2 linked regions of the Homo sapiens genome follow. Each later gene encodes a partner of the first gene's protein in a complex. Each region holds a gene or a part of one and is shown on either strand. Other genes may lie near its edges.

Region 1 (3,600 bases):
ATGTGAGTCCATTAAACTGCTTTCCTTTATAAATTACCCAGTCTCAGGTATGTCTTTATTAGCAGTGTGAGAACAGACAAATACAGATAAATTGTGGCTGTGCATAGCTTCTCTTCCTCTGGGGTTCAGGAACATTTTTTTCCTTACTCCCTAGTTGGAGCCACTTTGGCTCTATTAATGACTTACCCCAAGAAAACCTCACAGCAAGGACTCAACAGTGATGAGGGAGCTATACTAAAACAATATCCCCCAGATAGCCCAATGGGAGAGAGATTTGTATGGGCATGGGTTTAGTCAGAGCCCAAAACTTGTTGTGTCTTCTCTGGAAGAACCTCCCAGACCTCCCCAGCTAAACTCATAACCACATCCCTTTCCTAGTTTATCTTCTGTGTCCATTTACTGCACTGAAACTTCCTATTCCAAGTCAACGTTTCACCTCCAGATTGACATCCAAGCTGAAATCTGCTAACAGGGTCAGAAAACAGTTCATAAAGGAAAGTAAGCAAAAATGTTGAACCCATTCCAGCTTAATAAAAAAAAAAAAAGCCCACAATAACAAAATCTAAGGTTCTGTGTGCTTTCCTACCAATATAAAACACAGCTTTCTCCCAGAAACTCAACCATTTTCCATAATCATGATCTTCTATTAACAACTCACATCTTTCCAAGTAGGCACATTCTCTCTGTTCTCTTATGTCAAAAGTACATAACATGGTGCAGTGATCCAACTATGGGCTGGCTTCTCTGCAAACTGTCAACATTTCTCTCCCTGCCTTCCCTTTGTTCCTAAGAGCAGTTGTGGATTGGTATAGACCCAAAATGGAAGTTGAAATATGCATTGCATCATTTGTCACATTAGCTACAAAGGAAGCAGCAGAAGTAATCAGAAATGAGGAGCAGGAAATTTCCGATAAACAACTCTGATGGTTATCTGGAAGCTGAATTGAATCACAGGCACAAGAACTTGGAATTGCATTTTGAATTGCAGAATTAGAGGTAACTGCCTCCCACCTATATGATAGTGTCAATTAATCAAAAATTGAATATAGTTTTACAGGCTTAGCATTCCATTCCATTCTGCGACATGTCAGAGAGCATTTATTTATTTAACAGGCTGACATGAAGCACATTTGGATTTGGAAAAAGAAATAATTAAAAAGAACCACCCTGGGTGGCCCAGATGTGGATACTATTATGGATGTTGATAGTATTTGGAGGTGAAATGAACGAGTTTTTTTTTACAGACTCAATATTGACCAATGAAAACATGTAACTAATGAATTTAGCCCTGTAGTCAAGCAGTTTAAGCCTTTTTCAACATAGATTAGGAAGTTAGAATGGATGCCTCTCATTGAGTTTGCATTCAGTAGAATAAGTAAAGCTTGTTTAACTCATGCATCTCTCACTGGCCGCCTCTCTCTTTAATTTGGGAATAGAAAAGGGAGTCCACAATTAATTTTAGATTGTGAGAAGAGAGACAAAAAAAGGAGCAGAGAGTTTCTGAGATAACCTAAAATCTTTGCCGCACCCCTTACTAACCCCGGTTTGTGCCCCTTCACTATGGGAGTAGCTCTTGTCATCATCTAAAAAACTTGAACTGCATTTTGAGAGATTTATTGGCCTTGCTTCTGCAGGCTCATAACTCCTTTATGTGCTTGCTCTTGGGAGGAAAAAGCAGATAGACGTTTAAAAGCTGGATGTTCCTGCACACCCCTCTCCTGATGCTTCATTCTTTTCCAGGCAGAAAGATGGTGGGACTCTGTCTCTAGCAAAGGGATATTTCCAGATACTGAGGTGTTGTCAGAGACACCTGGTCAGGGAGGTTAGGAGAAGGGGCATCCAGGTCCACCCCCTCCAACTGGCTGCTGCTTTCCTGGCAGGGCTGCACTGGGACACCTCACTTCCTTCCCACTTCCCCTTCCTCCTCCCATTCGCTGTCTCTTTGCACACCCCTAATATGGCCTTTCATAGTAAGAGGTCAATATGTTTTCACACTTGGGAAATCTCATTCAAGAATTTTTGTCAATGGACAAGTCATAAGAAGCCCTTCCATTTTAGGGCTCGTTGACGTCACCAAGAGGCGATAAATATCTGTTGATATAATTGGATGTGAGATTCAGTGTTGAGATAGCAAAATTCTGCCCCTCGTTCCTTGGCAGGGCCCTATGATTTATGCAGGAGCAGAGGCAGCACGCAATCGAGCTGTCAAGAGAGCGTCAGCTTATTAGGCAAATGCTGCGTGGTTTTTGAAGAGGGTCGACACTATAAAATCCCACTCCAGGCTCTGGAGTGGAGAAACTCAGAGACCAAGTCCATTGAGAGACTGAGGGGAAAGAGAGGAGAGAAAGAAAAAGAGAGTGGGAACAGTAAAGAGAAAGGAAGACAACCTCCAGAGAAAGCCCCCGGAGACGTCTCTCTGCAGAGAGGCGGCAGCACCCGGCTCACCTGCGAAGCGCCTGGGAAGGTAGGGAGCGCCTGGACGGAACACGCCACCAACTTTGCGTTGCCTGAGCTGCCGCGATGTGCGCCGCGGAGCCGGCTGCCCCTGCCTGTGTACGTGTGTATGCATGTGTGTGCGTGCGTGTGTGTGTGTGTATGCATGTGTGTATGCGTATGTGTGTGTGTGTATGCGCGCGTGCGTGCGTGTGTGTGTGCGCGCGTGTTCGCGGACTATTCCTTAAGATTACAATAGTAGCTGGGATGTGGCAAAAGCAAACTTAGACGGCTGCTCTTCGTTACCCGTGCTGCCAGTTGCTCCTTGCTGGCTGTGTAAAGGAGCTCCCCCACCCCCTTCTATCCTAACCCCCGAGATAAGGCAGCAAGGGCAGAAGTGGAGAGGGAGGACCATGAGGCAGTAGTTCTCAATTTGGAAGAAAATGCTGAAATATCCGGAAGGGAGGTAGTCAGCGCGGGTGGGATCTTAAATCTGTGGCTCTTCTCTAGGATCGGGAAAATTAGTTTTGAGGATCGTTAGGAAGAGGACGCAGGGACCGTCCTTTCAGAGTCTAGAAAGAAGGGTCACTCCTGGCCGGTGAGCGCATGAGCTTAGGTGCGGAGCCCTGCAGGCGCCCCCTTTCCCCGCTCCCCAGGCGCTTCAGCACCGCGGACAGCGCCCATCCGAATCACTGAGGCCAAAGCCCAGCACGTCTAAGGCAGTCCCGTAGGAAGACCCCGTGTGCACCTCCCAGCTGAGCGAACTCTAACCAACTCTTTCTTTCTCTCTTCCCCTCTCTCATTCCGCCCTCCGCCCACCTCTGTGCCGCAGCGAGTGCCCCTAACATGCGGCTGCCGCTGCTTGTGTCCGCGGGAGTCCTGCTGGTGGCTCTCCTGCCCTGCCCGCCATGCAGGGCGCTCCTGAGCCGCGGGCCGGTCCCGGGAGCTCGGCAGGCGCCGCAGCACCCTCAGCCCTTGGATTTCTTCCAGCCGCCGCCGCAGTCCGAGCAGCCCCAGCAGCCGCAGGCTCGGCCGGTCCTGCTCCGCATGGGAGAGGAGTACTTCCTCCGCCTGGGGAACCTCAACAAGAGCCCGGCCGCTCCCCTTTCGCCCGCCTCCTCGCTCCTCGCCGGAGGCAGCGGCAGCCGCCCTTCGCCGGAACAGGCG
Region 2 (4,114 bases), on another chromosome or scaffold:
GCGTGTCCCTTGTCCCCATCAAAGGGTACCGGTGGATATTGTGGGAGGAGCCCCTTTGCTCAACACCCTTGCCCCCCTTGACATGTGGGGGAGAGTCAGGAGTCCCATCAGAGGCTGGGTCACCCAGAGGGAGCAGGCTTTGATGGGGAGAAAGGAGGTGATCCGAAAGAAAGCAGGCCCAACAAGCAGGGAGCCGTTGCCAGGGAGGATGCGACCTCCTTGTCTTTAATTGCTGAGCTGAGCAGTCCTCCCAAAGAATCACGGGAAAATAGATATTTTTGGAAATGCTTCCCATCCCTTTGAAGATCAGATGCAGCAGGAGGGAGGGCATTAGGGAGAAGGCCTAGAAGTCCTGGCAGCAACTCATCAGTAAATGGATTAATTAGTGCTTAATGATGAGGTGCAGCTCTGGGTACCCACTTGTGACTGACTGCACGGGCGTGCTCCACCTCATCTGGCGCTGGAGGCACCTGGAAAGGGGTCTTCCAGCCCTGCCCTCACAGACTGACCCCATGTCGAGAGGCCATCACCCCAGCTCCTTTCCTGGGATCACAGAGGGAAGTGCGGGGGAGCCTAGAGAGCACCACACTCAATCCTCCCACCCATTCTGCAGGTGTAGAAACTGAGGCCCACAGAAGGTCTGTGCCAAGGGCTACTTAACCAGCTGCAGATGCAGCTGGAATGAGAACTTAGGACTCCTGACTGCCACTTCAGGCAGGGCCAGCAAGTGAAGTGTGTGCCCAGGCACTGAGGGCTGAAAATGTTTATCTGGAGCATGTCAAGTAACCCTTTGCAACGGGAGCAGAGGGAACTCATGGGGGGTGGCCAGGGCTGGCTGCAAAAGGTGACAGGGCCATGACCACAGACAGCCTGGCCGGCCCCACCCAGCAGCCTGAACACGGAGGCCACACAAGAGTGGGTTCCAAGTGAAGGAGTGACCAACTCAGATCTGAAACCTGAGGCTGGGCGGTGGCGCTGGGGAGTGGGGGCAGGTAGGCCCAGACACGAGGATCACTCTGGAAGTGGACATGACAGGAACTGGTGCCTCCTCCTGGAAGCTCCTCTGATGTGCAGATGCTGCCTCCTTCCTAGGGGCTCCAGAAGGACTCAGCCCCCAGCATCGTGAGAGTTATCGTCCCTGGGCTGTGACCCTGCCTCCAGGCTCTGCGACCTCCGATAGGTTATTAGCCTCTCTGTGCCTCAATTTCCTTATTACAAAATGGGCCTGACTATATTGGGGGCTGGCCAACTGTGCACCCCTTGGACTGACCTGGCCAAGAGGCCCTTCTTCCTTTCTGCACTTCCTCCCCTTGGCCCCCAAGCCCCTCCCAGTGTGTCTTCTCCCTCTCCCGAGTCCCTCCCATGGCCAGGACATGGTACAGACACACGAGGCTGCTAGATCTGGCTGCCCCAGCCTCCTGCCCTGCCCTGGCCTCCCAAGTCACTCCCTGGGGAGTCACTTTCTGGCTGGGTCTTCCTACTCCTCTGCTGTAGCCCCCAACCTTAACACCCCAAATCCATCTGGTAGAGGAAAGAGGGGCAGGAGAAGGAATCTGGGAGTTTTGAGCTGGAAGACATCTTAGAAGCCAAGCCATCCAGCCCTCTCCATCCTCAGATGAGGGGCTGAGGGCCAGATGAGGGGCAACAATGTGCTGGGAGGTCACACAGTGAGTCTTGGAGTAAACTACATGGTGTCTGGGCTCACCCCTGTGCCCTCTTGGGACTCTGAGTTCAAGACCACAAGGACCCAAGGGTGCACACAGGAGGCCCCAATTGCAGGGATCAGGCCCCCAGCCTCCCCTCAGGTAGGTTAGGGCTCCTGGCCCACAGCTGTTGCTCTCTTGATAAGCAGGGACCTGACTCATTGACAGGGGAGAGCAAATTAATTCTGAGAGTGGCAGGCGGAATAGCAGGGAGCTGCAAAGCCCGGCTCTGGGGGTTTCGGGCCTCCGGGGAGCCAGGTGTTTACATGAGGATCAAGTATCCGACGGACCCTGGGTCAACCCCGTCCTGCCCCACTCCACCTACAAATCCAGGATGCAAGTTGAGCCTGTGCCTGTGCATCTGAAACTCTGGGTCCCCTGCCTCCTGGCTGGAGGGCCCGGGGTAGGCCTCAGAACCTCTCGACTCAAGGTTCTTATCCACACAGCTGGGGCTCTGATGATTCCTGCCCTGCTTCATGGTATTACAGTAGGCTCAAACAGACTAACCTGAAGTTTAATGGCAGAAGAAAGTGCCAGACAGACGTGGATGCAAATTCCAGCTTCACCCCTTACCAGCTGCCAATGGGGCAAGTTCCCTAACCTCCCTGAGCCCCAGGGGCCTTAGTTATAGGAGGCGTGATAGTGTCTTGCAAGGGTATTGTGAGAATCACGAGTAATGAGCACAGGGCACCCAGGAGAATACAGCGCTGACCTTTGGAAAACAGGGGCGATCCCCACAAGAGGTATTACTGTTATTGTCATCGTCATTCTTCCTTCCCCCACCTCCAAGCTCTCCCCATCCTGTCCCACCTCCCAGCAGATGGTCCACCCTCCACTTCTTCCTTACTTGTGGTATTGTAGCGGACACCATAGAAAAAGGCAGGGCAGGGCCGAACCACTAGCTGCCCCGCAGGGCTGCGGGGCCAGCAGGTGCCAATGAGGTCCACGGATGCGTTGCACTGCAGTCCTGGGGGCAGAGACGGCTGGTAAGGCACAGCAAGATATCCGGCCAAGGCCCCAGGCAGGCAGAGGACATTCCAGAGTTCTGCCCACCTCCCCACTCGTTCCCACTCACACCAGCTAGGGACAGGATGACAACAATGACCAGTGCAGAAATGAGCTCATCCTATGCAAAGAAGACACAAGGGGAAGAAATCTGAATCTGATGCTATGGTACTAGGGAGCCAGCATGGGTTCCAGAGCAGAGGAGGAAGAGAGATGGCTGGAGGTGGTGTTAAAAGCTAAGGTCCTGGCATTTAGAGGAAGCCTGGGCATGCTTCTGGTCCCCTGCTCTGTAGCCTAAGGACACTTCTCTTGGTCCCTCGCATGGTGACAGCCTGGAGCTCTGAGACATCACAGGAACACCCTGGAACAGACCCATCCAATCATTGACCTAGCCCCTCACGTCTCTGCAATCAAACCACATCTACCCTGGCCCTGCAGGGAAGAATCAGCTAAATGAAGTTGGCCCTCCTTCCGGCTGGCCTGTTCCTTCTTCCGGCTGGCCTGTTAACCACACTTACTGACCATACGTCACGTGTACTTTGTTCTGTGCAGGGCCCTAGGACAGGACTGATGGAGAAGTGAGCTATGGAGAGGAAAGGGAGGGAGACACCATCTGGGGGAGTGGAAAGGACACACTGAACTGGGAGTCTGGGCCCACTGCTTCAGAATGGGCTGTGCCACTAATTTGCTGTGAGATCATAGGCAAGTCACTTGCCCTCTCTGGGCCTTAGTGTCTTGTCTTCATCTATAATAAAATCAAGTGGTTGAACCAGATCAGAAATTCTTAATCTCAGCCCACTGGAAACTTCAACAGTTCACAGAGACCCTGAATGTAATGAAAATATTGGTGTATACATGCATTTTAATGGGGAAATGGGCCCACGGCTTTCATTAGATTCTCAAAGGGGTCTGTGACTCAAAGAGATATAAACATCTGAACTAGAAAGAAGATGTCAAAGTCCCCTTCCAAATATTTGCTTTTTGGAGGAGAGAGAGAGAGCACGCGAGAGAGAGAGGATGTTGGGGCAGAGTTGAGGCCCAGTGACACTTCAGGAGGGGAGGGTGGATATGGCCTCCAAAGGGTGGGGGCTGGCACAGTCCTGGCACCCCCCTGAGGCTGCCCCTTCTTTCTCTGCCTTTTAGTGCCTCCCTCTGAGTGAGGCTGGCACACCAGTCCTTTTGAGCCCCAGTGTCCCCAGGTTAATAACCTAGAATTGGCACAAGAGTGGACAGACAAGCCACGGAGGGCCAGGAACCATGAACCAGCGCGTGTGGGGGCAGCCTCTTCAGGCCTGGGCCGAGGCCTTAGCAGCTGCCAAGCCCTGGCTGGGGCTGCCTGCCATCTCCTCCCCAAATTAGCTTGTCCCCAGTCTCTCAGGAAACAGCACTGGGTTAAATTGGCTCCC

What was found.
Region 2: the proteins of CRH (region 1) and CRHR1 are in contact, whole or in part, in a cryo-EM structure (PDB 6P9X), measured with the Homo sapiens proteins. Residues at the interface, in NP_000747.1 of Homo sapiens: Glu156, Pro157, Pro158, Ile159, Ser160, Leu161, Asp162, Leu163, Thr164, Phe165, His166, Leu167, Leu168, Arg169, Glu170, Leu172, Met174, Arg176; in NP_004373.2 of Homo sapiens: Lys113, Tyr116, His117, Ala119, Val120, Asn123, Trp169, Val172, Gln173, Met176, Ser177, Pro178, His181, Thr192, Tyr195, Asn196, His199, Phe203, Phe260, Gly261, Lys262, Tyr267, Tyr272, Gln273, Met276, Ile277, Leu280, Tyr327, Phe330, Phe331.

What each region holds. Positions count from the first base shown.
Region 1 is NC_000008.11:66,177,157-66,180,756, reverse strand, and holds the start of CRH (corticoliberin preproprotein), read left to right. Parts: upstream 1-2,292; 5' UTR 2,293-2,464; intron 2,465-3,265; 5' UTR 3,266-3,279; coding exon 3,280-3,600. UniProt on the Homo sapiens protein: Hormone regulating the release of corticotropin from pituitary gland. Induces NLRP6 in intestinal epithelial cells, hence may influence gut microbiota profile.
Region 2 is NC_000017.11:45,815,019-45,819,132, reverse strand, and holds part of CRHR1 (corticotropin-releasing factor receptor 1 isoform 2 precursor), read right to left. Parts: intron 2,671-4,114; coding exon 2,551-2,670; intron 1-2,550. Other genes in the region: LINC02210-CRHR1 (CRHR1-IT1-CRHR1 protein), read right to left, coding at 2,551-2,574.